Linked DNA regions of Homo sapiens. The protein of the gene in region 2 purifies or fractionates together with the protein of the main gene of each other region. This does not show direct contact. Each region holds a gene or a part of one and is shown on either strand. Other genes may lie near its edges.

Evidence for each region.
Region 1: the proteins of MARVELD2 (region 2) and ACAD9 purify together in Homo sapiens (affinity purification with mass spectrometry; 2 studies listed by BioGRID and IntAct, with this or other methods). This does not show direct contact.
Region 3: the proteins of MARVELD2 (region 2) and CTBS purify together in Homo sapiens (affinity purification with mass spectrometry; 2 studies listed by BioGRID and IntAct, with this or other methods). This does not show direct contact.
Region 4: the proteins of MARVELD2 (region 2) and TTL purify together in Homo sapiens (affinity purification with mass spectrometry; 2 studies listed by BioGRID and IntAct, with this or other methods). This does not show direct contact.

The regions. Positions count from the first base shown.
Region 1 is NC_000003.12:128,903,574-128,910,841, forward strand, and holds part of ACAD9 (complex I assembly factor ACAD9, mitochondrial), read left to right. Parts: intron 1-488; coding exon 489-559; intron 560-812; coding exon 813-932; intron 933-2,547; coding exon 2,548-2,676; intron 2,677-4,611; coding exon 4,612-4,691; intron 4,692-5,399; coding exon 5,400-5,526; intron 5,527-5,770; coding exon 5,771-5,848; intron 5,849-6,299; exon of another isoform or gene 6,300-6,447; coding exon 6,448-6,576; exon of another isoform or gene 6,577-6,690; coding exon of another isoform or gene 6,691-6,760; intron 6,761-7,167; coding exon 7,168-7,240; intron 7,241-7,268. UniProt on the Homo sapiens protein: As part of the MCIA complex, primarily participates in the assembly of the mitochondrial complex I and therefore plays a role in oxidative phosphorylation.
Region 2 is NC_000005.10:69,431,984-69,439,251, forward strand, and holds part of MARVELD2 (MARVEL domain-containing protein 2), read left to right. Parts: intron 1-543; coding exon 544-692; intron 693-938; coding exon 939-1,110; intron 1,111-7,268. UniProt on the Homo sapiens protein: Plays a role in the formation of tricellular tight junctions and of epithelial barriers.
Region 3 is NC_000001.11:84,550,441-84,557,708, reverse strand, and holds part of CTBS (di-N-acetylchitobiase precursor), read left to right. Parts: intron 1-1,213; exon of another isoform or gene 1,214-1,729; coding exon of another isoform or gene 1,730-1,799; intron 1,800-2,509; coding exon 2,510-2,710; 3' UTR 2,711-4,584; coding exon of another isoform or gene 4,585-4,674; 3' UTR 4,675-7,178; coding exon of another isoform or gene 7,179-7,268. Other genes in the region: SPATA1 (spermatogenesis-associated protein 1), read right to left, coding at 4,585-4,674, 7,179-7,268. UniProt on the Homo sapiens protein: Involved in the degradation of asparagine-linked glycoproteins. Hydrolyze of N-acetyl-beta-D-glucosamine (1-4)N-acetylglucosamine chitobiose core from the reducing end of the bond, it requires prior cleavage by glycosylasparaginase.
Region 4 is NC_000002.12:112,477,556-112,485,207, forward strand, and holds the start of TTL (tubulin--tyrosine ligase), read left to right. Parts: upstream 1-4,600; 5' UTR 4,601-4,789; coding exon 4,790-4,946; intron 4,947-7,652. UniProt on the Homo sapiens protein: Catalyzes the post-translational addition of a tyrosine to the C-terminal end of detyrosinated alpha-tubulin.

The DNA.
Region 1 (7,268 bases), on a different chromosome or scaffold from region 2:
TCAGCACTTTGTCACAGCCACACGCCTGGAAGCCCCAGCCTGAGTATTCAAGCCAGGCGGCCCCACCTGCTTTGGTCACTGCACGGGGTGTGAGCCTGCACCACCTCTGTCTGGGGCCTCTGTGCCTGGCTTTGTGCGAGGCGCCCTCCCCCTTCCACCTGGTTGCATCTTCACAGCGACTCTGAGGTGGGGGTGGTGTTCAGGGAGGTGTCGCACTCGGCCTGAGGCACAGCCTGTAAGAACCATTGCCAGGATTCAAGTCTGTATCTGATGCCAAACTCTGTGTGTGGGTGCCATGAGGAGGGGTGGTTCTCCTCTGACCCACGGGTGCTGGCAAGTGGGGGTGCCAGCTTCTGGGGTATTTGACCTCAGCAGACACGCTTCTCACAGTGCCCACCTGTGGGAAGGGTAAGGATGATGGCCATAGGAAATCATGTTTGAACCACAGAAATATTCCAGTTCATTCTAATAACTCTGCTCTTCCTCAGAAATGACTGCTGAGTACGCCTGCACAAGGAAACAGTTTAACAAGAGGCTCAGTGAATTTGGATTGATTCAGGTACCAATGGTTGAGTACTGTATTTGTGCATTTCACTGTGTGACATGAACGGTGTGTTCTTTTGATGTCTCTGTACTGGTGACTTCTGTGGTGATTTGGGAAGAAGACTAGTTAAGGCTTTATTTGACACGGGTCACTGGGCTTGCTTCTCTTGGGCATTGAGGCTTCTGACTTAATTACTTTCTCTCCTGTTTCACAGATTTGGCTCTCAGCACATGCAAATTGTTTCTTGTGTTTTTTCTGAACACTCCAGGAGAAATTTGCACTGATGGCTCAGAAGGCTTACGTCATGGAGAGTATGACCTACCTCACAGCAGGGATGCTGGACCAACCTGGCTTTCCCGACTGCTCCATCGAGGCAGCCATGGTGAAGGTAACCCTGGCATAGCCAGAGAGCTGGCGCTGGAGGGAGGCTTGGGAAATCTCCCTCACTGTGACCTTTCAAGCCCATGCTGTTGCCTGTCATCTTCCTCCTGTCATTGATCCAGTATTTATGATGCACTTGCCCTGTGTAGCACTCCAGGGATAGGCAGGCAGCGGGGAGCAGCAGTAGGGAAGTGTCCAGTGGGCCAGTGGATCAGTAGTTTATAGCAGAAGGAGACCGTTATGATAATATCCTTTTAGAGTAATAACATTGCATCTGGCTTGTGTGAGAAAGACTTCTTTTTTCCTTAGTTTATGGCCTTCCTACTTTCTGGTATCAAAACTTTATCTTAAAAACTAAGCATATGGCAGGGCGCGGTGGCTCACACCTGTAATCCCAGCACTTTGGGGGGCCGAGGTGGATGGATCACCTGAGGTCTGGAGTTCGAGACCAGCCTGGCCAACATGGTAAAACCCCATCTCTACTAAAAACACAAAAAATTAGCCGGGCATAGTGGCGGGCACCTGTAACCCCAGCTACTTGGGAAGCTGAGGCAAGAGAATCACTTGAACCCGGTGGGGGCGGAGGTTGCAGTGAGCCGAGGTTGTGCCATTGCACACCAGCCTAGGCAACAAGAGCAAAACTCCATCTCAAAAAAAAACAAAAAACAAAAAACATGTATGAGCCTGGGCAACATGGCGAAACCCCATCTCTACAAAAAATACAAAAATTAGCTGGCATGGTGGCACACGCCTATAGTCCCTGCTACCTGGGAGGCTGAGGTGGGAAGAGCATCTTATTTGGTTAAGGTAGATACTAGAATTTGCTTTTGTTTTGTTGAGGGTGGAGGGTGTCATTTTTTAGCTGTAATAAAAAAGATGGCCACACTTGGGGGGACCCTACTTTGTGCCCCCCACAATTGTTTTTAAGCTGGTCTCTGGAATTGAGCTCTTGAGAGAAATAGTGAGAGGTATGGCAGCTTACAGAAGCAAACATCCTGGTGTCGGCAGGAGAGTCTACCTAAAAGGTTGGGATCCTGAAGTGGCAAGGTCCCTAAAAAAATAAAAAATTAAAAACAAAAAGGCTGGGCATCTTGGACCGTGTTTGAGTCTTTTCTAGGTGCAGTCTGTGTACTGGGTGCATTTGCATGTGTTTTATCATCTCGTTTTCTTGTCACCCTTGAACAGTGACCACAGACATTAGTTTGCTGTAGGCCAGCCTCTTCCAGATGCTAAGCCTAGGGCTAAACATGGCAGTATGTTTGCCCCCAAGGCACTTATAGTGTGCACAGACAGAAAGAAATCACGGCCGCTGGGGCTTGGCAGGAACAGGTCAGGTTTTCTCGGGAAGGGGAGATCTTAGGTGGGTTTTAAAGGAACAGGAGCTCAGCCAGGTGCAGATAGGGTGAAGGCAGGCCCAGAGGTACAGAAGGTCATGGTGGGGTAGGGAACACAAGCTGGCCAGTGTGGTCACGGAAGGCAAAGGACTTGACCACATCACCCCTCAAGTTCCTCCCTGGCCGATCTCCTCCCCAAGCCCGTGTGCCTCCCATGCCTCCCCAGCCACCCAGCTCCCTGCAGCGTAGGTCCTCCTTTTGGAAAGGATTCAGTGTGACACCCCACAGGTGTTCAGCTCCGAGGCCGCCTGGCAGTGTGTGAGTGAGGCGCTGCAGATCCTCGGGGGCTTGGGCTACACAAGGGACTATCCGTACGAGCGCATACTGCGTGACACCCGCATCCTCCTCATCTTCGAGGTGAGTGGCCCCGCCACCAGCTAAGCTGTGCTCCACCCCCACCCTGCCTGGTCCTAAAGATGCTGCTCAGGGCCTCGCAGAGGCCCCCGCAGCCCAGGGCTGGGTCGCATGCTCTCAGGGGCTCTCCTAGCCCTGGCACGTCTCCTTCCCGACTGCTGCCCTCCATGAAGTCACAAGCCTGAGGAGTCAGTTCAGTTAGCATGTGCCAGGTGGCAGGGGAGGGAACTGGGGCCACAGAGATGACTTCGGATGCTGTGTTCTGATTGTGCAGCAGGGCCGACCAAGGGAGATGACAGAGTGTAAAGAGGCAGGGAGCGGGCATCCTCCAGAGGCAGCCAGAGTTTTGTGAAGCATGCGCTCCTGGCCCCTAGGGGCAGAAAGAAAGGGCTTCAACCAGGGCCGGGTGGAGGGCAGTTTGTCCCTAAGGGCAGGGTAATAGAGCGCGCCAGGCCCAGATGGGACTGATCTGCTGGCACAAGGTGAATGAAGAGAGAGTGAAGGGCTTTCTGGGAGCAGCAGTCAGCCCTGCTAGGTGGGCTGGGGCAGGCAGTGGGTTTGGGGGTGTTGAAGAAGGTATATGGGAAGGCTAAAAAAGTAGCCAGACTGTGGAGGACCTTGATTGACAGCAGAGGAATTTGGAAGCCACAAAACGTCTTTAAGCAGGGCATTATTTGGTTGTATCTGTGTTGTGGGAAATGCCCCCAGGGGCTCAGCAAGTGCTGGACATGTGGACGGGGCTCATGTGGAGAGTGAGTTGCAGGGATGAGGCCGGAGACCAGGGGCTCTCCTGCTGGGAGGGAGGGGCTGGACCTAAGAGAGCACAGCAGGATGAGTGGGATATGATGGTGGGCATGGGTATACAGGAGGCAGGCCTGAGACAGGGAGAGGGTTTGGGCCTGAGCAGCAGGTCTGGTGATGAGAGGCATCATCAGCCTCTGGGAGTGTAGTCTTGTCTCCTGGGCCGTCCTGCCCAGTGGGAGGCCTCCTTGGCTGCTTTTGTTCCTGGCCTACCCATTGGGTTCCAGCCATCTCCACTGTTGCAGTGGACATACGGGGCAAGGGCCAGCCTGAGGGCACTGGAGTGGTCTCAGCCCTGCAAAGGGTCTTCTCCAAAGGCCCTTCCCTTAGCCTGGGAGGGTTGGGGTTCTCCAGGGCTGGGGTGGTCAGCAGGGTTCAGGAAGCCCTCAAGGCCTTGGAAGAACACAGGGCTCTCGATGTAGGGTGAGAGCTCCTGTCTGGAGCCTGCTCGGAGCTGGGTGGTCCTGCCAGGAGGCCCCTGCAGTCCCCCCTTTTCCTGTAGGGAGTCCTGCTGTCCGTGATGTCAGCCTGACTGCAGGGGACAGTCCTCAGTCCCTAGTGCTGGCTGTGTAGCCTGGGTCAGGCCCCTGCACCTGACACACAGTACCATTGTGCAGAGTGGGCAGAAGCCCACTGGCCTCTCACTGATCAGAATCATGGGTTGGGGGAGTGGGGAGCATGTGGCCCTCTGGGTGTGTTGACACCTGGCACTGAGGAGGTTCTAGCTGCCACTCAGCAATTTCTGGCTTCCGTGAGGAATCTGGCCTCCACCTGGAGCCAGCAATGTCTGTCTGGCACTGGCTGAGCCCCAGGCATCAGCACCCCTCACCACCCGGGGAAAGCTGGTTTCCATTTTACAGAGGACCTGGAGACTTGGAGAAAGGCTTGACACACGTGAGGCTGGTCACGGAGAGGTGGGGGGGTCCCAGTGGGAGCTCATGGCCATCTGGTCACCTCCCTCCTCATCCCTGTGCACTCCCTGAGCCCTGGCCAGAGCCCTGCTCCCAGCTACTTCAGGAGCAGTGGCTTTTGTGGCAATGGGCAAGCAGGCAGTGGCCGGCTCTACCCAGCACACGTGGCACTACCATGGCTGCCTGGCCGGGGGGCAGCCTTTGACCTCTACACTACTGACCACAGGGAACCAATGAGATTCTCCGGATGTACATCGCCCTGACGGGTCTGCAGCATGCCGGCCGCATCCTGACTACCAGGATCCAGTAGGTGCCATTGTCACCGTGTGCTTCTCAGGTCCCATACCTGCCCAGCAGGGGCCAGTCCAGGGCAGTGGGAGGAAAGAGCTGCCTTGACCTGGAGTGGGGGCATGGGGGTGTGGCGCAGCCTTGTGGAGGGGACCTTCCCCTGTGGTAGTGGGGGGCTTGCTGCCCAGGGAAGCCCTCGCTGCCCTGCCCTTATGGCCACAGCACCCTACAGCTTCAGCATAAATACCGTATCCCCCATCTGGTCCCTCACACTAGAGGCAGCTGGTTTTTCAGAACCTGAAGAATGAGAGGTGTCCCTTTAAAGGTGCCAGGCCTCACAGCCAACATAAGCCAGTGTTTCTCTTCTCTGCCCTTCTTCCCCTCATGCTCCCCTCCACCCCCACCCTAGGGGCACAGTAATCCAAAATCACTGCTGGAGGCCAAGTACAGGTTGCTAGTAGCATTTTGTCTCCTTCACAGGAGACAGCTGCTGGGAAGCTGGCTGTGACTCCACCCCTCATGGGGGAGCATATGTGTGGCTCCCCTGAGGAGACTGGCTGCTCTCTGGCAGGTGGTGGGTTTGGGGGGGTTCAGGCTGTAGCCAGGGGCCCAGCATACCCAGGCCAGAGGGGGGCACGGAGCTTCTGGGTGCCGAATGGGCCATGTTGCTGGACAGTGAGCGCCAGCAGCGAGGCCTCCAGTCACAGGACCATGGACTTTCTGCAGTGAGCTTAAACAGGCCAAAGTGAGCACAGTCATGGATACCGTTGGCCGGAGGCTTCGGGACTCCCTGGGCCGAACTGTGGACCTGGGGCTGACAGGCAACCATGGAGTTGTGCACCCCAGTCTTGCGGTGAGTGGGCCTAACAGGCATACCCCCTATTTCAATGCCCTCCTGCCAGATCTCCTTGTGGCAGAAAAGATCTCACTGTGGGGGGTCTGGGCTTCTCCAGGGGAAGTTGGGGAACACCAGCTAGTCCATGACACCCTGGATTGCTTCCCCCAGATGGGGCATCTCTGCCTGGTACCCGGGCTGTGAGACAGGACAGGGCACTGTAGGGATGAGGTGCTGAACTGAGTCCTGTCTTGGTTAATAGGACAGTGCCAACAAGTTTGAGGAGAACACCTACTGCTTCGGCCGGACCGTGGAGACACTGCTGCTCCGCTTTGGCAAGGTAACCAGGCCCTCCCAGGCCTGGGTCGCAAGCGGTCCTCCAATTTGGCCAGCATTCATGAGACTACTTTTTGTCAAGCATCCTTTGGGACCAGGCCTAGAACAGAAATGTTGATCACCCTGGAGGGATGGGGTGGTGAGGTCAGGCTGACTTTGTCAGCCTGGGGCCCACTTAGCTACTCGGATGGGTACCCTTGCTGGGTGAGTTTTCTGCAGTGTTTTTCTGTGCACCTTTCAGGTAGAGAGGCTCCCTAGAATCGGGAGGGCAGCTCCACCTGGGGCCTGAATCTAGGGACCTGATTGGTGGGGCCCTTGCTGCTGAAGGTGGCAGTAGCACAGTAAGCACTGGCTTCTGGTCTCAGCCAAGCTTCTGGGACCTGGTCTTGCCTTAACCCCTCCCTGAATCTAGAGCTCAAAGAGAAGGGAAAACAGAAGGTGGCTGGGAGCCGTTCTCCCACAACCTGAAGAGAAAGGTGTTATTGACTCCACTTTCTCAAGGAACACAGGAGACTAAGACAGGCAAAGATGCAGCCCAGGGAGGGACCATGTGGGGGACTGGTCTAGGTAGTGAGTCCCCACTTGGAGCCTCTGTGATCCCAGACCATCATGGAGGAGCAGCTGGTACTGAAGCGGGTGGCCAACATCCTCATCAACCTGTATGGCATGACGGCCGTGCTGTCGCGGGCCAGCCGCTCCATCCGCATTGGGCTCCGCAACCACGACCACGAGGTGAGCCCAGCCCAGCCTCACACAGGGCCTGGCTGCTGCCATCTGTCCTGCTGCACTTTAATGAAGTTGATTGTTGAGGAGGGTGTGGTCGGGTGTGGGGGAGGCTGTGCAGGTTCACCATGCGGTGGCCGTGGGAGGGTCTGTGCTGCTCAGGAGATGGGGCTGTTCCCTTTCTTCTTCCTGACTGAGAGAAGAGGGGGTGAGTGACAGGGGTTCCTGATCCCAGTGCCCCTACCCCCAGCAAGGGACAGACCCTGCACATTGCCCGCTGTGCTGGAGGGAGGCGGGTGCAGTCTCTGAGGACCCACTGTATACCAGGATCTCTGCCTGCACTTTCCAGAGCACCTGCAGATACCAGGATTGTGACATCTGCCTTTCAGAGGAAACAGGGTCAGAGATGTTGAGTCACTTGCTGTTGGGGAAAGGCTGTTGGATCAGGGCTGGAATTAGAACCCAAGACGGGGTGACTCCTGTGCCAGGCCTTGTGACCCCTGCCATGCTACCCAGTTTGGCTGATAGGCTGGGTTTTTGAAGCTCAGAGGTCTGATTCCAGGAATTTGGGCATATCTTTTCTGTCCTCGGTTCTGGCAGGTTCTCTTGGCCAACACCTTCTGCGTGGAAGCTTACTTGCAGAATCTCTTCAGCCTCTCTCAGCTGGACAAGTGTGAGTGGCATGTCTTGGGGGAGGGAAG
Region 2 (7,268 bases):
GGACTACAGACACACACCGCTGCATCTGCCAGATTTTTTTTTTTTTAAACAGAGTCTCAGTCTGTCTCCCAAGCTGGAGTGCAGTGGTACAATCTTGGTTCACTGCAACCTCCACCTCCTGGGCCCAAGTGATTCTCCTGCCTCAGCCTCCCGAGGAGCTGGGATTATAGGCACCCGCCACCACTCCCAGCTAATTTTTGTATTTTTAATAGAGATGGGGTTTTACCATGTTGGCCAGGCTGGTTTCAAACTCCTGATCTCAAGTGGTCAGCCCACCTCGGTTTCCCAAAGTGCTGGGATTACAGGCGTGAGCCACTGTGCCTGGCCTTAAACTTTTTATAGAGACAGGGTCTTGCCATGTTGGCCAGGCTGGTCTTGAACTCCTGGCCTCATGTGATCCTCCGGCTTTGTCCTCCCAAAGTGCTAGGATTACAGGTTTGAGCCACCCCACCTGATCTTCTTCCTCATTTTCTAAGAATGAATTCAGAGGGTTTTTTTCTACTTATGTTTATTAACAAATCCTCTTTTTCTCCCTAACTGCAGTGTGAAATGGCCACCAGTGGTGACAGACAAAGAGACTCAGAAGTTAATTTCAAGGAACTGAGAACAGCAAAAATGAAACCTGAACTACTGAGTGGACACATCCCCCCAGGCCACATTCCTAAACCTATCGTGATGCCCGACTATGTGGCGTGAGTGTCAGTCTGAATTCTTCCTCAAGGTAGAAGTTGAGGGGCCCCATTTGGTCCTTTCATTTTCCAGTTTGTCTCCAAGTTAATACTCTGTGCTTAAAATCGTGTATGTAAATAGTTGTTATCTGAGAGGTAATGTATTGAATTGAAGGTACAATATGATCAGTAAGGAATAAGATAAGCTGATTTCCCATTCAGCTTCTTTTAGTGAAACAATTATATCTTTGGCTTATGTTTTTCCCCTAGAAAATACCCTGTGATTCAGACAGATGATGAGCGAGAACGCTATAAAGCTGTGTTCCAAGACCAGTTTTCAGAGTACAAAGAGCTGTCTGCAGAAGTTCAGGCTGTCCTGAGGAAGTTTGATGAGCTGGATGCAGTGATGAGCAGATTGCCACATCATTCGGAAAGCCGACAGGTTAGTATGTGCAGCTGCCTAGGAGGAGCACTGAAATCTAGAGGATGAATAAAATCTGGCTTTTTTTTTTTTTTTTTTTTTTTTCTGTGAGACAGAGTCTTGTTCTGTTGCCAGGCTGGAGTGCAGTGGCACAATCTTGGCTTGCTGCAACCTCCACCTCCTGGGTTCAAGCAATTCTCCTGCCTCAGCCTCCCGAGTAGCTGGGATTACAGGCACATGCCACCACACGTAGCTAATTTTTTTCTATTTTTAGTGGAGACGCGGTTTTGCCATGTTGGCCAAGAGTGGCCTCAAGTGATCCACCTGCCTTGGCCTCCCAGAGTGCTGGGATTACAGTCATGAGCCACCGCATTTGGCATAAAATCTGGCTTTTTTTTTTTTTTAAGGCTAGAATCTCACTCTGTCACCCAGGCTGGAGTGCAGTGGCGTGATCTTGGCTCACTGCAAGCTCCACCTCCCGAGTTCATGCCATTCTCCTGCCTCAGCCTCCCGAGTAGCTGGGACTAAGGCGCCTGCCACCACGCCCAGCTAATTTTTTTGTATTTTTAGTAGAGATGGGGTTTCACCGTGTTAGCCAGGATGATCTTGATCTCCTGACCTCGGGATCCACCTGCCTCGGCCTCCCAAAGTGCTGGGATTCAGGTGGGAGCCACCACGCCTGGCCCCCAAAATCTGGCTTTTAAAAAAATTTATAACCATTTACATCTGCTTTCTGTGTCTAGGAAAGCATTTGAGATCCTCAAGGTGTCTAGTCAAGATGACAATTCAAATTATGTAACTTAATATCTTTTGTCTTCAATTATTAAACAGTATTTCTTCTTTTTTTTTTTTCACTCTGTGCTTACCCATATTTTATTTTCTTACTTAAGTAAAATACGAATTTGCCTAAGATAGATACTGAGTCAGTCAGGGTCCCAAAGGAGACAGATAGCACATTCAAACTAGGATAATTCACAAAGGTTTATTCAGAAAGGGAATGTAGGGAAGCCACCAGGGGCATTGCATTCCCCTGCTAAGCCAGAGCCCAGCAGTTAGCACCCCAGGCCCAAAGGCAGAGCGCCCACTGAGTAAGAGTAGAGAGCAGAAATGGCCAGGCGCAGTGGCTTATGCCTGTAATCCCAACACTTTAAGAGGCCAAGGTGGGCAGATCGCTTGAGCCCAGGCATGCAAGACCAGCCTGGACAACATGGTGAAACCCTGTCTCTACAAAAAATATAAAAATTAGCCGGGCATGGTGGCATGCACCTGTAGACCCAGCAGGAGGCTGAGGTGCAAGGATTGCCTGAACCCAGGAGGTGGAGTTTGCAGTGAGCTGTGATTTTGTCACTACACTCCAGCCTGAAGGACAGAGTGAGACCATGTCTCCAAAAAAAAAAAAAAAAGCAAGCAGATATGAGATATGCTACAAATGTGAGCTGCTGGACACACACATCAGACAGGTAGCTGTGATTATGACAAAGAGGAAAACCAGGAGTAGATATGGTAGTTACAGAGGCTTAAGCTTTTTCGTAGTGCTCTTCCGCACCCCCCACATTTTTCACATTTTGAAATAGGAATATTGAAATAGGAATGCCTTATAACCTGTGCCATTTTTTAATTTTTATTTTATTTTATTTTTTTGAGATGGAGTTTTGCTCTTGTTGCCCAGGCTGGAGTGCCATGGCGCGATCTCGGCTCACTGCAACCTCTGCCTCCCGGGTTGAAGCGATTCTCCCACCTCGGCCTCCCAAGTAGCTGGGATTCAGGCATGCGCCACCATGCCCAGCTAATTTTGTATTTTTAGTAGAGACGGGGTTTCACCATGGTGGTTAGGCTGGTCTCAAACTCCTGACCTTATGATCCACCCGCCTTAGCCTCCCAAAGTGCTGGGATTACAGGCGTGAGCCACCGTGCCTGGCCACCTGTGCCATTTTTTAATCAGATGTACTCTTTTTTTTTTTTTTTTTTGAGATGGAGTCTTGCTCTGTCACCCAGACGGGAGTGCAGTGGTGCAATCTCGGCTCACTGCAACCTTTGCCTCCCAGGTTACGCGATTCTCCTGCCTCAGCTTCCTGAGTAGATGGGACTATAGGTGCACACCCGGCTAATTTTTGTATTTTTAGTAGAGGCAGGGTTTCCCCATTTAGGCCAGGCTGGTCTCGAACTCCTGACCTCAGGTGATCCACCTACCTCAGCCTCCCAAAGTGCTGGTATTACAGGCATGAGCCACTGCATCCGGCCCAGATGTACTCTTTTTAATTGAGATCTCATTCACATATAATAAACCCACCCTTTTAAAGTGTACAATTCAGTGAATTTTAGTATAGTTACAGAGTTTTGCAATCAGCACCACTCAAATTCCACAACAGTTTTATCACCCCAAAAAGAAACCCTATATTGGCTGGGTGTGGTGGCTCATGCCTGTAATCTCAGCAGTTTGGGATGCTGAGGCAGGCAGATCACTTGAGGTCAGGAATTCGAGACCAGCCTGGCCAACATGGTGAAATGCTGTCTCTACTAAAAGTACAAAAATTAGTTGGGCATGTTGGCAGGCTGAGTAATCTCAGCTACTTGGGAGGCTGAGGCAGGAGAATCACTTGAACCCAGGAGGTGGAGGTTGCAGTGGGCCAAGATTGCGCCACTGCACTCCAGCCTGGGCAACAGAGTGAGACCCTGTCTCAAAAAAAAAAAAAAAAAAAAAAAAAATGAAACCCTTTACGAATTAGCAGTTATTTCCCATTCTCAGCTCTGTCCAACCATTGACAACCACTAATCTACTTTCTGTCCGAATGGATTTGCCTAGTTTGAACATTTCATATCAATCTTTTGTGTCTGGCTTCTTCATTTTGCATAATGTTTTCAAGGTTCATCCATATTTTAGCATAAGTCAATACATATTCCTTTTTGTGGTGGAATAATATTCTGCTATATGGATATACCACATTTTGTTTATCCATTTATCAAGAGATAGACATTTGGTCATTTCCAAATGTCTATATAGTCATTTCCACTCATTGGCTGTTACGAATAATGCTGGTATAAATATTTGTGTAATATTCTGTCTTTTTAAAAGAGGCTGTATTAATCTATTACATGTATGATTAAATTTTAAAAACACAGCTTTGTAAAAACTAAATGTCGGTCTGGCTGTGGTGGCACATGCCTGCAGTCCCAGCTACTTGGGAGGCTGAGGCAGGCAAGTCGTGTGAACCCGGGAGGCGGAGGTTGCAGTGAGCCAAGATCATGCCACTGCACTCCAGCCTGGGCGACAGAGCCAAAAAAAACCAAAAAACAAACAAAAAAAACTAAATGTCAAATTTATGTATGGGAACACACACACACACACACACACACACACACACACACACACACACACACACATATATATAAATTTTTTACCTGAGAAGTTAGGTGTCTTTGTTTCAATCACAGACTCTTTGTTAAGTGTGCATTTAAATCACTTATCGTTATGAGTTAACTAAGCCAAATGTGTATTACAGTAACATTTTCCTAATCCTGGAGCAATGGAATGGTGTTGGCTAAGAGACGCCAGTACCAGGAAGCAAGAGAAATTCAGCAAATATTGAGGTTGAATGTCAGTACCATTTGGAAAATAAGCAAGGCCCACAGGTCTAAGAAGGGTGACCTAGTCTCTCAGAGGCCGTCAAAGGAGTGCAGGAAGGCATGAGGCCCCAGGAATCTGGATCAGCACAGGCTGGGAAATGCAGGCTTGTTGGGAGAAATAATGAAGAAAATCCTGACCTGTAAGGCCGGGTGTGGTGGCTCACACCTGTAATCCTAGCAGTTTGGGAGGCTGAGGCGGGCAGATCACCTGAGGTTGGGAGTTCCAGACCAGCCTGACCAACATGGAGAAACCCCATCTCGGCCAGGCACAGTGGCTCATGCCTGTAATCCCAGCACTTTGGGAGGCCAAGGTGAAACCGCGTCTCTACTAAAAATACAAAAATTAGCCAGGCATGGTGGTGTGTGCCTGTAATTCCAGCTACTCAGGAGGCAGAGACAAGAGAATTGCTTGAACCCGGGAGTCGGAGGTTGCAGTGAGCTGAGATCGTGCCACTACACTCCAGCCTGGGCGACAGAGCAAGACTTCATCTCAAAAAAAAAAAAAAAAGAAACCATCCCAACTAAAAATACAAAATTAGCCGCACGTGGTGGTGCATGTGTGTAATCCCAGCTACTCGGGAAGTCTGAGGCAGGAGAATCGCTTGACCCAGGAGGCGGAGGCTCTGGTGTGCCAAGATCGCGCCATTGCACTCCAGCCTGGGCAACAAGAGCGAAACTCTGTCTTAAAAAAAAAAAAAAAAAAAAAAGCTGGGTGCGGTGGCTCACACCTGTAATCCCAGCACTTTGGGAGGCCGAGGCAGGCGGATCATGAGGTCAGGAGATCGAGACCAGCCTGGCCAGCATAGTGAAACCCCGTCCCTACTAAAAATACAAAAAATTAGCCGAGCATGGTGGTGGGCGCCTGTAATCCTTGCTACTCGGGAGGCTGAGGCAGGAGAATGGCTTGAACCTGGGAGGCGGAGGTTGCAGTGAGACGAGATTGTGCCATTGCACTCCAGCCTGGGTGACAGAGTGAGACTCTGTCTCAAAAAAAAAAAACAAAGAAAATCTTGACCTTGACCTGTAATCTTTGAGCCAACACCCAGTGGTATCTGGTTTGTGTGCTTTGTATGAATGGACAAGGGCTGCAGCACATGGTCTGCAGTTGGGAAATCAAGAGGGTCCTGATGACAGTACAGGTTGAGAGACCAAGTCTTCCCATGATGTTTCCACACAATATCAACAACAGCCATTACCTGTGATTTTTAACAAGACAGGGCTTGTAAGTAACCCAATGGCAGGCCCACGGTTATTATTATCAGTGTATCCTCCAGTCCTTATCTAAAGTAGAAATATTAACCATATTACAAAAGTTAGCTTCTCCTTGGCCACAGGCTGAGCTTTGTCCTGGGCAGGAGTCCACAGGCTCATTCGTTTTCCCACCATGTCCCCATGGAAGCATGTGAGGCATTTCAAAGCCCAGTGGGCCTGTTTGGAGGCAGGTTCTCCCACAGACATGGTTGTGCACCACTGAAAAATAGTCACATGACTTTTCTGAGCCCATAAAGTAGAAATATTGCCCCAAACAATCCCTCTGGTCCTCACCACTCCTTAAATTCAGTGACAGACTCTAGATGGATGTTACAGCTCATCTCTGCCTGCATCTCCAGCACAGCAGTGCTAACCCCAATAGCAAGTTTATTCCTTGTCCAGGATCTGTTATTACAGATTACAATTAAATCACCAGGTTTATCTTCACTGCTGGCAAGCATTCAAAACACAAACATACTCATGATCTCAGTATGTAAAAGAGATTGAAGAATTAAAATAGTTCAGGCAAGGGGGCTCATGGCTGTAATCCCCACACTTTGAGAGACAAGGCAGGAAGAGTGCTCAAAGCCAGGAGTTCAAGATGAGCTTGGGCAACATAGCAAGACTGCATCTACACACAAAAAAGTAAAAGTTAGCGGCCGGTCATGGTGGCTCACACCTGTAACCCCAGCACTTTGGGAGGCCGAGGTGGGTGAATCACAAGGTCAGGAGTTCGAGACCAGCCAGGCCAACATGGTGAAACCCCATCTCTACTGAAAATACAAAAAATTAGCTGGGCGTAGTGGCAGGTGCCTGTAATCCCAGCTACTCGGGAGGCTGAGGCAGGAGAATCACTTGAACCTAGGAGGCGAAGGTTGCAGTGAGCCGAGATCGCACCACTGCACTCCAGCCTGGGTGACAGAATTGAGACTCCATCTCAAAAATAAAAAAAAATAAATATAAATAAAAATTAGCCAGGCCTGGTGATGTGCCGTATAATCCCAGCTACTTGGGAGGCTGAGACAGGAGGATCACTTGAGCCCAAGAAGTTTTGGTTACAGTGAGCTATTACACCACTGCCTTCCAGCTTGGGCAACAGAGCAAGACCCTGTCTCAAAAAAAAAAAAAAAAAAAGAAGAAGAAAATATACTGGGAAAAGGATATGGGTCAGTGATAGAAAAAGTTCTCAGGCCAAGCTTTTATTTTATTAGTTTTTTATTTATTTATTTATTTTTGAGACAGAGTCTCTGTTGCCCAGGCTGGAGTGCAGTGGCGTGATCTTGGCTCACTGCAACCTCCGCCTC
Region 3 (7,268 bases), on a different chromosome or scaffold from region 2:
TTTTTTTGTATTTTTTTAATAGAGACGGGGTTTCACTGTGTTAGCCAGGATGGTCTCGATCTCCTGACCTCATGATCTGCCCATCTCGGCCTCCCAAAGGGCTGGGATTATAGGTGTGAGCCACCGCGCCCAGCCTCCTTCTTTTTTTTTTTTTCTTTTTTTTTTTTTTTTTTTTGAGATGGAGTTTTGTTCTTTTCGCCCAGGCTGGAGTGCAGTGGCACGATCTCGGCTGACTGCGCCCTCCGCCTCCCAGGTTCAAGCAATTCTCCTGCCTCAGCGTCCTGAGTAGCTGGGATTACAGGCATGCATCACCACACCCAGCTAATTTTTGTATTTGTAGTAGAGGCAGGGTTTCACCATGTTGGCCAGGCTGGTCTTGAACTCCTGACCTCAGGTGATTCACCCATCTTGGCCTCCCAAAATGCTGGGATTACAGGCGTAAGCCATCGCGCCTGGCCCCCTCTTTTTTATTAATTGCAAAATTCTGTAGCAACATGAATCAAGTTTCTGTCTTATTTGAAGAGAATCACTCTATTGGGCTGTTTCAGCAATAGCAGCTCATCTTGGACTCAATATTCTGGAAAGCAAATATGCCTTAACCATGCATAAATTAGTCTTACATGTGCTTAGTTTTTGCCCTTTGTTCCTTTACAATTTTGAGACATTTGAATTTCTTAATAATATCAAAAAGGCTCAAAGTACTAGCTAGAATGATGGCAAAATTCAAAGGTATATGTCTTTGGGTTTGCCCCTGAATCTTCAATAATCTGTCATATTTAAGTACAAGTTCTACAAGTTGCCTTTTAATAATGAATCACAACTATTACTAGGGCATGCATGGCTTTGTCTAGTTCTAAAAATGTTAAAGAATGGAATATAAGATACAGACTGAGATATGCTTGATTACAATTAGTCTACCATATTTAAATATGCCGCAGTGTATTCATTTACCAGGTGAATTATTTTCCTTCAAAGTGGTCTTTTTTTTTTTTTTTTTTGAGACGGAGTCTTGCTCTGTCTCCAGGCTGGAGTGCAGTGGCGTGATCTCAGCTTACTGCAACCTCCGTCTCCTGGGTTCAAGCAATTCTCCTGCCTCAGCCTCGAGAGTAGCTGGGACTACAGGCATGCACCACCAAGCCCAGCTAATTTTTTTGTATTTTAGTAAAGATGGGGTTTCACCATGTTGGCTAGGATGGTCTCGATCTCTCGACCTCATGATCTGCCTGCCTCGGCCTCCCAAAGTGCTGGTATTACAGGCCTGAGACACCGTGCCCGGCCCCAAAGTGGTCATCTTAAGAGACTATTCTAATTCCAGGAGTGCTGCTGTAAATATTACTGGCATTAATTCAGAAATGCCTTTAAGGAGTTTCCTAGATGTATATAAAAATAAGTAAATTATTTTTAGTCACAGGTCTTTCTATTTTTTATCTCCTATCTTTTTCACCTTCCTTTGCACTTTGTCCTAGATCTGCTCCTTTCCCTTTTCCTTTGTCTCTTATCCAATAGCTCATGTGCTGCCTGAGAGAGACTGTGTTAGTACTAGATAGAGGTAGTTGATTCTGGGCAGAAGGACTTTTTAGGGTGGAAGGTGAACATAAGACCAGAATCTAATTTATGGCTCATAATCAGGTGTATGTTAAGTCACCAATAAAGTGCAGACCTAACAGACTCTGAGAATGTATCTGTAAGACCTAGAAAAGGATGTACTTTTCTCCTCCATTGCCATTACCTTTTGACTTGGCTGATTCATCATAAACAAAATCTTCTGTAGACCTCCTAGCCAGGCACACTTCTAGCAACTACAGAGAATACAAAAAAGCACATAAGCTGGTTTTAGAGGACCAGAGCATTGATTCCCCTTAACTTTGGTTGCATACCAGCATTATCTAATGAAACATTAAAACACAAAACAAATATATGCCCTAGCATTAACCCTGGAGAATTCTGATTCAATAGGTTTCATGTGGTGTGGGACCCAGGAATCTGTATTTTAAAAGCTCCGCAAGTGATTCAGATGTACGCCTTGGCTAATAATCACTGGCTAAGGGCAAGGAAAGAATCTTAGGACATGAAAAGGAGCTCAAGTAGAATCTATTAGGAGGCTCGTTTCTGTAATCTTTGCCATTGTTAAAAGTGCCATAAGCAATAATACCTAGAAAGTACAGATGTTCCTTGATTTATGATTGTATTGTGTCCTAATAAACCCATAAACATATGATAAGTTGAAAATGAACGAAATACCCTGATAAATCCATCGTAAAGTCTAAAAATTGTAAGTTGAACCATTGTAAGTCAGGGACCATTTGTATCAAATATAGAACCATGGAATTATAGAATAGGAAAGTGTTATGCCCTAAAATTTTTATTTCATTGTATCCTTTTTGAATAATTGGATTTAGGAAACTTTTTTCCCTCTTACTGTACTGTATACTTCTTTTATTTTTCCCTTTCCTGTGGTGCTGAATTGTACTAAATACTTTAAAATCTCCATTTTAATTTATTTATATAGGATCCTGCTGGCCACTTTCATCAAGTATGGTATGATAACCCTCAGAGTATTTCTTTAAAGGCAACATATATACAAAACTATCGCTTACGGGGCATTGGCATGTGGAATGCAAACTGTCTTGACTACTCTGGAGATGCTGTAGCCAAACAGCAAACTGAAGAAATGTGGGAAGTCTTAAAGCCAAAGCTGTTACAGAGATGAACATCTTTTGTCAAACCATTAAGAGTTAGAAAGATGATCTGTATCAACAGATCTAGTTTCTTGCATTTTTATTATGTTGCTATATACTTTTGTTATCCGTATACTAAAAAAAAAGAATAAATAAATGTTTTGATTGTTTGAATTTGAAAAATACACACGAATGTCCTCAGTATCCAGGAACATAAAGGCAAGAAGCAAGTCAACTTACCTATTAAATATTCCTCTATTAGATGTTTCAACACTATAATTTAATTGGGAAAAATTGCTTTCAGAATTTTATTATGCCATATTTCCCTTCATTATAGTAAAATATATGCTCACGAATCAATGCTGATTTTTAAAATATGTATAATCTGAAGTGGAAATTGTTTGCTTAGAGTTTTTAAAAACCTAGTCTTTGAAAAGCAGTTTGTGCTATACTTTTCCCCCAACCCTCCAATAAATCTTAAATTTAAAACCTACAATGTAGTGTCTCCCCTTTAGGTTCATCAAACTGATGAAAATAATTTTTCTGCTTCCTGACTCCATATAGTATTTATGTTCTCTGAGGTACTTGAACTAAATCTTTGGACAGTGAGTGAGAATTAAAAAGAATCCAGAAGATTAAATGTATTCACAAAATAGAAGAATGTAACAGTAATATTTTGAATTGGTAAGTTAGAACTACCTAATATTTTCCAACTACATTATTTTTATGAGGCTCATTTGTAAAATTTTTAATAATAGGAATAACTTGCAGTTGAACTTGATTCTGTTCACTGTCACACTTCTAATTATTCATTTCTTCATTTATGGACATATATAATTTATTTCTTGGCTAGCTTGCTTACATGGTTAAATTTTTCTTTCTACATCTGCAATGTATCTTTTTTATTTTTATTTTTTGTAGAGACAGGGTCTCGCTATGTTGTCCAGATGGGTCTCCAACTCCTGGGCTCAAGCACTCCTCCTGCCTTGGCTTCCTAAAGAGCTGGGATTACAGGCATGAGCTGCATTGTGCTTTTAATGATCTAAAGACACTGATTAGCTTCTCAACTAGTTCTCTTTCTAAAAGATCAATTTTATACAAATAAGTTTTCTAAATGTAATAAAGTCTGTTTTCTTTCTCCAGGGAATTAAGAACAACATTGTGCTGCCCTTATTAGTTCCTAATTACAGATTAAAAATCTGTATCTTTGAACTCTAGATTTACATAAATCCTGGCTTCCCTGCACATTTTGCCCCTGTAAATTGGAATACATGATGATTGAACCATCTGTTATGAGAATATTACATTTCCTATTTACACAATTGTTTGTGACAGAGTAAAAACCATTTTCATAGTATATGTTGGATCACTGTTGTCTTCATATTTCTAAAATAAATGAATTAAAAAATTTAAATTCTTAGATGCTTATCTCTATCATAGCTCAGAATGCAACTTCAATACCCCCATTCTTTTATATTTCCAGATTTCTTTTAATTAAGATATAATGAACAAATTAAGTTAAATGAAGTCTGTATTTTCATGCAAATATATTAGTATTCATTAATATACATTTATTCTTTGCAAATAGATTTTAGTTATATTAGCTCTTAAATTGTTAAATAAATTATTATTGAATTTTATTATTAAATTATTAAAATGAAAATTATAAAATTAGCACTGTAAAATAATATGTAAAGGACTTGGAATGTTAAAAATAACCATTCATCATTTTGCTTTATATTACATCTAATATTTCCTGAAACATTTTGTAATACCCACATGGAAAGTGGAGAAAGAGAAACCTTGTGCTTTTTATAAAACATTGCCAAGGAGAATAATGGTTAAACAAATCTGTTCAAATACATATTTAAATTTTTTTACAAATAAAAGTTTTAAATTAACATACCTAATTGAGATTGTAGAGATGTATTATTTTTTTTTTCTGTGCCAGTTCAGTTTTCAATGTTCGTAAATCTGAAACTGCTTGTTTTCTCATCTATAAAAAGAATTACTTTTCAAAAATGAACTTCATCATACCCTTCTAAAAGTACATCATAGTTGTCATGTAAACAGGGTTTTTGTAACCGCTTTAACTGTCTTCTCTCATTTGGCTTCAGTGCTTTCAACTCCCACTGGATTACTACAGTAAATGTGTAGATTATGAATGCTGTTTAATAAGCATGCTTATCTACTGGTGAGATATGCTATAAGGTAACCTTGTTTATGAGTAGATAGGGACAATACAATTGAACTGTTCTAAAAACTAGAGTGAGAAAGAATTTTATGTTTTGCTTAAACTTCAAAACCTGTTGTTCTCAATGTGTAAAGAAAATAGTGAAAACAACAAGAAAACAAAATACAAAAAAAACCCTTAATTCCTAGCCCTTAGGAACGGAATAGATATTTCAGAAATATAGTGTTTACTCTGTGGCAAGCACTCTTCTAAGTGTATTAGTCTCTTATTTTTTTTTCAAAAATTTTACAGAATCAGATACTAGTATTTATCCCCATTTTACAGTTGAAATGGAGACCTTTAGAGGCTAAGTAACTTGCTCAAGATAAAAAACTAGTAAGTGAAGTGGGTACAGCCAGGATTCAAATTCAAACCACCTGGTACCAGAGCCCTTACTATTCCAAGTGTTGTCTGTGGACAGCAGCATTAGCATCAGTTGGGAGCTTGTTAGGTAGGAAGAATCTCAGGCTGCACCCAGACCTACTGAGTCAGATCCTGCATTTTTAAACAGGATCCTCAGATGATATATTAAACTTTGAGAAGCACTACTTATGCTATACTATCTTGAATAAATATGGTTGCAAGAGACTCAGGCTGGGTTTTTTTTGTCCCTTAGTTCTGAATCTTATAGGTAGTGCTGTTTTGGGGAGATCATTCAGAAATCAATAAAACTTCTTAAATAATGTCTGTTATGTGTCAATCAGGCACTATGGTTAAATACAGGATTTTTTCCCCCCAGCCTATAAGCTGAAAACTTTGTTCTCTTTTTTTCCTCTTATTCCACTTGTCCTTACTGTTTTTGTATGAACAATTCTAATTTGAGTTCAAACCATGAGTGACATTTGTAATGTTAAAATATACAAAGATTACAAGTAATGTGCATGCTTTCCAGAAGAAAACAGCATGAGGGGAGTCATAATCCAAGCCTCTGGGGGCATTTTTATTACTCCTTCCTACCTACCCAATTATTAAGTGTACAAGTTTACATATTGGCTTTATCTCCATATATTGAATAGACAGTTTTCCTTCATTGAACAAATTATTTTTTGAGTGCATATTTAACTGATATTTTGTTAAAAATTATCCTCTGCTCTTTTCCTTTTCTATTTTAAGTTTTAAGCTTCTCAGTGCCAAACCAGGGCTTATTTAGCCTCGAGAATGCTGCTTGTAAAAAGAATCTAGAACTGCACTGTCCAGTATAGTAGAAGCCAGTTGCCATATGTAACTACTAAACTTAAATTAACTAAAATTAAATAAAATTTAAAATTCAGTTCCTCAGTCACACAAACTACATTTCAAGTGCTCAATATCAATAGGTGGCTAGTGGGTACCAATCTGACAGTGCAGGCATAGAACATTTCTATCATCACATAAGTTCTGTTGGACAGTGCTAATTCTATTTTTTTATTTTTAAATTTTATTTATTTTTATTTTTATCTGAAACCGAGGACAGTACTGATTTTCTTTTTTCTTTTTAAAATTTTTTTAAAAAGAGCTAATTCTAGAATGCAGTCATTATTCTGTGTCATAAAGCTGTTTCTGATAAAGAAATGAGAGCATTCATATAATTATCGTTCTCATTTTCCTGCCTTGCTGTGGGTACTTGTATGAAAATGTATAATCTTCTGTTTTCTGTTCAACAAAAAAGCTTTTTAATACATATGTACTTCACAGATAATTTCTATGATGTAATTAGTTGTACACAATTCTCACCAAATAGAGCATGCCCAGAAGCCTCTACTAAGCATCTGCTATACAAAAGGTCCCATGGGAGAAACAAAGTTAACTAAGGCATAGTCTCTGCCAGGAAGGAAACTTAACATCTAGTAGAAGACACATTATTCATATTTAAATAATAGAATACATATGAAAATAACCAGAAAAAATGAAACGATTACCCATAAAAAATTAAATGTCAGTTCAGAGGAGAGCTCAGTGGTTTATCAGACTTAATAATTCTAATACAGGAAAACTACTTAAAATTTTTTTTGAGAATATATTGACTCACAGGTTCCTTTTCCTTTAATTCTTCCTAGTAAAATTTTACTAAATTTTACTTTGGCTTTATTATATCATGTATCTTTTCACAGGTTTAGTTTTTCTTCCTGCATTTTTTTTTTCACCTATGCTCTTTACTGTTAAGGTAACAATTTTAATACAGTCAATCCTGGCTACCCTTATATTATTGACACCCAAAGTTAAAACACCAAAATATTTTATTTCAAGATAAATGTTATAATAATCTGATTAGGAAAAATGTAAATTACCTTAACTTCTACTATGAGTTTCATTTTGTCAGTATCTAGTTTTCTCTTAAGCTGGTCAATTGCATGCTGTACCTCAGTGATCTGGATTAT
Region 4 (7,652 bases), on a different chromosome or scaffold from region 2:
TTCTATATAAATTTTTGAATTACCTTGTCAATTTCCATGAATGGCTCTGCAGAGATTTTGTTTGGGATTGTATTGAATCTATAGATCAATTTGACACCTTAACAATTTTGAGTCTTTCAGTCATGAACATGGTACATCCTTTCATTTATTTTATGCTTTTAAATTTTCTCTCGATTATGCTTTGTAATTTTCAGTGTAGAGGCAATGCACAGCTTTCATTAGATACTCCTAATTATTTCACATTTATATTGATGCTACTGTAAATCGTATCTTTTAAAAATTTTTTTTCTATTTCTTTGTTGTTGACATACAGAAATACAATTTATATCTGTATATATACCTTGTATCTAGTGACTTTACAATGTTCAGTTATTCATTCAATTAGTATAGGTTCTTCAGGATCCACTATGTATAGAACCATATCATATGGGAAAAGTGACAGTTTTATTTTTTTCAAATTTTCCCTTAATAAACGGGTTATTTGATGGTACTATAAATGAAATTGTTTTCTTAATTTTTTCTTGGATTATTTTGGGCTGTTCCAAAAGTTTGCTGAATTTGTTTATTAATTCTATTAATTCTAATTTGTTTATTAATTCTAACATTTCGTGGGTATGTATGTGTGGGTAGTCCTTAAGGGTTTTTTTGGTAGAATTTTCTACATATATGTTATCTGCGAATAGAATCAATCTCTTTAATAGGTGTGAAATTATTCAGATTTTGTATTTCTGTGTCATTTTTGGTAAACTGGATTTTTCAAGGAAGTAGTCTATTTTGTCCACACGTCAAATTCATTTGCAAAAATTGATCATAGGATCTTCTTTCTTTCTTTCTTTTTTTGAGACGGAGTTTCGCTCTTGTTGCTCAGGCTGGAGTGCAGTGGCGCGATCTTGGCTCACGGCAACCTCCGCCTCCCGGGTTCAAGACCGTCTCCTGCCTCAGCCTCCCGAGTAGCTGGGATTACAGGCGTGCGCCACCACGCCCAGCTGATTTTTTGTATTTTTAGTAGAGGCAGGGTTTCTCCATGTTGGTCAAGCCGATCTCAAACTCCCGACCTCTGGTGATCCACCCGCCTCGGCCTCCCAAAGTGCTGGGATGACAGGCGTGAGCCACCGCGCCTGGCCGGATCTTATTGTTTTTAATACCTTCAGGATCTCTAGTGATGTTTCTTTTTTCATTAAAAAATTTGTTTAAAAATATTTTTAAATCTTCTTGCATCTGACCTTTTTCATTTTAACTTTGATTGTTCTTCCTTTCATTTGTTGGTCTTGAATGCTTAACAATTTTAAATTTTTTAAAATATATCCCCTTTGCCTTTGATTTCTTTATTGTACATTTATTTTCTACTTCCTTGATTTCTTCCCTTAGGATTTATTTCCTTTTACTTACTTTGGGTTTTGCTTATTATTCTTTTTCTAGTTTCATGAGATGGAAGCTTAATTGATTTTCAGTCTTCTTTTAAAAACATACGTACTTGGCCCACGCCTGTAATCCCAGCACTTTGGGAGGCCGAGGCGGGCGGATCACGAGGTCAGGAGATCGAGACCATCGTGGCTAACACGGTGAAACCCCGTCTCTACTAAAAAAAAAAAAAAAAAAAAGAATACAAAAAATTAGTCGGGCGTAGTGGCGGGCGCCTGTAGTCCCAGCTACTCGGGAGGCTGAGGCAGGAGAATGGCGTGAACCCGGGAGGCAGAGCTTGCAGTGAGCCGAGATCACACCACTGCACTCCAGCCTGGGCCACAGAGCCAGACTCCGTCTCAAAAACAAAACAAAACAAAAAAAAACACATATGTACTTTAGACTGTAATTTTTTTATTAAAAACAGCTTTAGCTGTATCCTACCAGTTTTGCTATGCCATATCTTTATTCTCATTCAGTTAGAAAATACTTTCTCATATTGTGATTTCTTCACGGATTCATGGGTTATTTAGCAGTGTACAATATCACTTAATCTCCATGCAACTTAATTCCACTATTGTCAGAAAAGTGTTCAGAATTATTTCAATCTTTTGAAATTGCTGGAGTTTACTTTATAATCCAGGGTACTGCCAGTTTTGGCAAATTCCTTACATTCTTTGTTCCAATATTGCTGCTGACTGTACGTACTGTCTCCAGAAGAAGAGGGCACATCCAAATTCTAAGGTCTAAGCTAGGAAGTGATACATATCACCTGCTCACATTCTACTGGCAAGAGTATATTCACATATCCACATTTAATGCTTACTGCTAGGGGCTTAATGCTAGGGTGGAGGCAAAGCTGAATTTTCGGAACAGATTCTCCCCCTATAAGACAGCAAGACAGTGGCAAGCTGTCCCACACAGATAGTGTTCCATCAGATTGGTCTGATTTGGACCAGTTTCCTACGTTTTACCAGTCGCTGTGGCAAAAGGGATAGAGAGTAATCCTGTTGGACCAAGCCTGGATATTCATTTCCTTTATCAATAACAGACACTGTTAATCCCACAAGAGCCACAAAAAATGGGTTCCAAGGGGGTCAGGCGCTGCGGCTCATGCCTGTAATCCCAGCACTTTGGGAGACCAAGGCGGGCAGATCACTTGAGGTCAGGAGTTGGGAGATCAGTCTGGCCAATATGGTGAAACCCTGTCTCTACCAAAAATATAAAAAGTAGCCAGGCATAGTGGCCTGTGCCTGTAGTCCCAGCTACTCAGGAGGGTGAGGCAGGAGAATCTCTTGAAACCCGGAGGTGGAAGTTGCCGTGAGCTGAGATCACGCCATTGCACTCCAGCCTGGGCGACAGTGCAAGACTCCCTAACAGACACACACACACACACACACACACACACACACACACGTTCCAAGGAGGAAAGATGAGTTACCTTACAAAGAAAAGGGAATAAGCTGGGTGTGGTGGCTCACGCCTGTAATCCCAACAGTTTGGGAGGCTGAGGTGGGAGGATGGCTTGAGTTGAGGAGTTCGAGACCAGCCTGGGCAATATGGTGAGACCCTGTCTCAAAAAAAAGTGGGGTGGGGAATAAGTAGTACCGTACAGAACCTACAGCTAAAAGAAACAAAAATGGTGCTCGCTACAAAAAGTGAGAAAAAGGAAAAAGGTAGCTTCTGGATTTGGAAATTCAAAGGTCACTGGTGTTCCTAATGAGATCCACGGTTGTGGAGTGGCAGAGAGAAGCCACCTGTGGCACAGGAGTCGTCAGTAGGAGTCGCAGGAGGAATTGATGCAGCATGGTGGGAGTGGACGTCACTTTCAAGGTGATCAGCCGTGAAGAGCGGCAAACACAGCGTCTTGGCTCGAGTTCCCCCAAACGGTGCCCCCTGGAACAAGAATTTGAGCACGAGTACAGTAGTTTTTTTGGGAGGTGATCCCAGGAAACATCGGTAGTCAGGGAAAGGAAGGAAGCCAACAGAAGATGCCCTGATGAGCAAGTTGCAGCTGTGGACAACCGCAGCCGTGGCCTACAGAGGACCACCGCAATACGCCTAGGACACACGCCTCCCCGCAGGGCACGTGCGGAGGGCGAGAGGGCCAGGGCATTCTCGACCAACTCTATCCCTCGTGGAGGGAGAGCAGCTGGGAAGGAGTGCAAGCACCCAGCACCTCTAAGTCTGCCCCATTTCTGCTCTGAGCGGGCTCTCCACAGCCAGCGGTTGCCTGCAGGTGGAGCCGGTGCGCAAGACAGGCGAGTGAGCGCCTGGCGGCCCCGTGGAATCTGGGCAACGATGGGAAGGAGAAGGGCGCTTTTACAATGTGCTCGGGTAGATACCGTGAGCATCGGGGGACAGGAAGGGGAGAGGCCCCAGGGTGTTCTTTATCTACAGGAGAGTAAAAGATGCAAGGCGCAGGGCTGATGTGGGTAATTTATGAGGGACTGTAGGAAGTTTGGGGGAGCTCTGATGATCATTGCCTTCTCTTTGTATCTCAAATGCAGCAGCACAGTCTTCAGAGTGGGCTATCAGAACCGAAGGGACTTTTAAGAGCCACTCTCCGCCGCTCATAAGGGGAAATCGAGGTCCGGAGAAGGGAAAGCAAGTGGCTGAATGCCGGTAAAAGGCAGGAAAAGAGCGGAGCCCAGGGCTCCAGGGGGTCGGTTTGGGACCTGCTTCCACCAGCAGAGTCTAAGGTCATCCCCTTGGCCGTGCGCCACCCTGGGCTCAGCCGAAGGAAGGAGCACTCGACACAAACAAAACCGACGCTCCGGGTCTCCGTAGTCGTTAAGCAAAGAGGAAGAGGAAGCGCTTCTTCATTAGGCCACAGGACCGGGCCTTAGAACTTTTGGGTTTTATCCATTAAAGGTCCTTTGGCAATAGAAGAAAAACCCAGATCGAGCCCTGCAAACTGGGATCTTCCGCCGGCACCGCCCCCCGGCTGCGACCCGGGGCTCGGAAAGAACCACCCCAGGCCCGGGCTCCGGTTCCACCGCACAGTCCGCCCGCTGCGGTAAAGCCGCGCCCACCGCCGCGGGTCTCCAACCCTGCGCCGCCGCCGCCCCCGGGGGAGGGTACGGAAAGGGCGCGGCGCCGCCGCCCACGGGCTCCTCCAGAGCGCGGCGGGGCCGGGCCGCGCGGAATCACGGGACAGAGGCGGGGCCGCGCCGGCGGGGGCGGGCGTGCGAGCGGCGCTTTCCTCTCCGGCACCCGGCGGGCGCCCGGGCGCGGCGCCGCCGGCACCCGAGAGGCGCGGTAGCCGGCGCGGGCGGCGGGGGCCGGGCCGCGGCGGGCGCCCGGGCGGGGTCCGCGCTGAGCCGCCTTCTCGGCCGCCTGGTCCCTGCGGCGGCTGCCCGGCGGCCCGGGCGCGCGGCGCTTCGCCATGTACACCTTCGTGGTACGCGATGAGAACAGCAGCGTCTACGCCGAGGTCTCCCGGCTGCTCCTCGCCACCGGCCACTGGAAGAGGCTGCGGCGAGACAACCCCAGATTCAACCTGATGCTGGGAGAGAGGAATCGGCTGCCCTTCGGGAGACTGGGTGAGCCCCTCCCCGATTCCCGTCTGCCCTCCTCGGAGCGGCCCTGCGCGCCTCCCGCGGCCCGTTAGAACCGGCGCTTTTGTTTTTAAAGGTCATACATTTTCTCCTCTGTCGCTTGTCGGGCACATCAGAAACGGATTCGGAAAGATCGAAACCTGTCGTTTTTAATGCTTTCTTGTCTCCTAACTTGGATTTAGAGTCGGAGTCGCGGTGCGGCCACTCGGGGCCGCAGCTACCTCCCGACGGTGACCGGTCCCTGCAGCCCGGGAGACGCTGGCCGCCGGGGCTGGGACCTGAGGCGCGAGTCTAGCGGCTCCCCCGGGCCGAAGCCCCCAGATTTGGCGGGTCCGCCGCGCTGGGCGCGGCTCCGCAGAGCGGGCGGCTGGAGTCATCTTTTGCAGCTCGTCTGCACTGAGGATTTCTCCCTGCTTGGCGTGGGCGCGGGCGGGGGAGCCGTAGGTGTTGAAACCCCTGAGGCTTCTGCCCCCCGAAGGCGCGGAGGAGCGATCAGAGGATTTGGAAAAGACCCCCGGATTCCAAAAGCAGGAGCTGCAGAAGAGACCCTAGCCCAGGGAAGTGTGGAGGGATGTCTGATTATAAACCTTTCCTTAGTTTCACCAAATAATGTGTTTTCGCAGTTCTGCATTGGATTAAGATCTTACACGAGGCTGCGTTCGCCCTCCCTGTCTTCCCTGCTCTCCCCGAGGGAATTACCTTCATCCACATGGTTGAAGCTGGCTGGGCACCACCATACCCACATGTCCACGGGTAGGAAAGCGCAGGAGATAGGAGGGGACTAGCGGCTCCTTTGTAAGTGATGTCATCCAGAAGTTGCCCAGATCGGTTCAACTCACATCCTATTGACCTGAGCATAGTCTCATGGCCTCCCTCTCTGCACAGTCATCTGGGAATTGCATCTTCTCTCCGGGGAGCCATGTTCCTTGCCAGAATTCACCAGAGGTGGGGGCCAATTGTATTCCAAAGACAAGGGGAGAATCGATACGGAGGAAGAGTCACCTCTACCTTGGAGGGCAACCCAGAGAGAGCAATGTTCTATGTCCAGGAGAGAAAACAGTTTTTAGAAATAGGTGTGGTCAGAATTCAAATGGGTAAAAACTGAATACGGGCCATTTGGAATTGACTGGTCATTTATGAGCTTCCATAGACAGAGCCTTTGGGAGGGGGCTGTGTAAAACTCAAATCGTTGGAGGAATGAAGAGCTGCAGTGTAAAGTTGCTGGATTTTCTTCTTTTGAATAGTACCTGGGACAACTTTTCATTGGTATACAAGTTTATGATGTAGAATGGTGACTCCATGGAAGGACCCATTTGAACACCCAGAAATCTTAGAATATGGAGACTGTGCCTGGAGGCTCCCTTTGGTTAACCGGTGTCAGGAAGACCCTAGCAAAGAGAATTCATGATCTGAAAGGAGAGGAAGAATTGCTTATAGTTGAGAACAATTATTTGTTCCTTGCATTGTCCACTTCCCCTTCCAGACTTCCTGACTTCCCTCTATATTCTTGGCAGTGCCTAGCTGTGAAAGCTTAGGTGGAATCATAACATTAAAAACAACAAACATGGCTCCGCCCAGGCAGAGGTAGGAGTGACTGGCATTACCCTGGTGCTTAAGCCTAGGAGTGAGAAGCAGAAGCCTCCAGAATTTGAATCCTGAACAGATACCACAAATTCAGGAGATGATCAGTAAACGTTTGAGCTTTTTGTTTGTATGTGTTTTTTTTTTTTTTTGTAGTTTTGTTTTTTGTTTGTCTGTTTGTTTTGCGACAGAGTCTCACTCTGTCGCCCAGGCTGGAGTGCAGTGGTGCAATTTTGGCTCACTGCAACCTCTCCCTCCTGGGTTCAAGCAATTCTCCTGCCTCAGCCTCCCAAGTAGCTGGGATTACAGGCGCGCATCACCATGCCCAGCTAATTTTTTGTATTTTTGGTAGAGACAAGGTTTTGCCGTGTTGGTCAGGCTGGTCTCGAACTCCTGACCTCAGGTGATCCGCCCACTTCGTCCTCCCAAAGTGCTGGGATTACAGGCATGAACCACCGTGCCCGGCCAACATTTGGTTTTTATGGGAAAGAAAACAGCATCCTACAACAAAATTGGTTATATGCCATCACTGTTAAGGGATATTTACCTTTTGCTTAAAGTGTACTACATGAAAGCCAAGGAGAAGATTTATAGAGCTAGGTAAAGGCTCAGGAAGGCAGGTGCCCTGTGGATAAGAATGTAGGCAGTTCAGGTGGGAATCAGGTCTGTCTGCTCAGGGAGACCAGTGAGAGCCAGCTAATGCCTGCCTGAAACTTTTGATTTGACTGTATGCCATTCTCAGAGAAATTATTCTTTCTTCTGGCATTTTCAACTGAAAATTCCTTTGGTCTTACTTTGATTTTGTTACTGGAAATACAGTGTGTTTTATTAAGATTTGAAACAAAACATTTTTTATTTTATTTTATTTTTGAGATGAAGTCTTGCTCTGTCGCCCAGGCTGGAGTGCAGTGGTGGGATCTTGGCTCACTGCAACCTCTGCCTCCCAGGTTCAAGTGATTCTCATGCCTCAGCCTCCCAAGTAGCTAGAATTACCGGTGTGCGCCACCACGCCCAGCTAGTTTTTGTGTTTTTAGTAGAGATGGGGTTTTGCCATGTTGGCCAAGCTGGTCTTGAACTCCTGATCTCAGGTGACTTACCCACCTCAGCCTC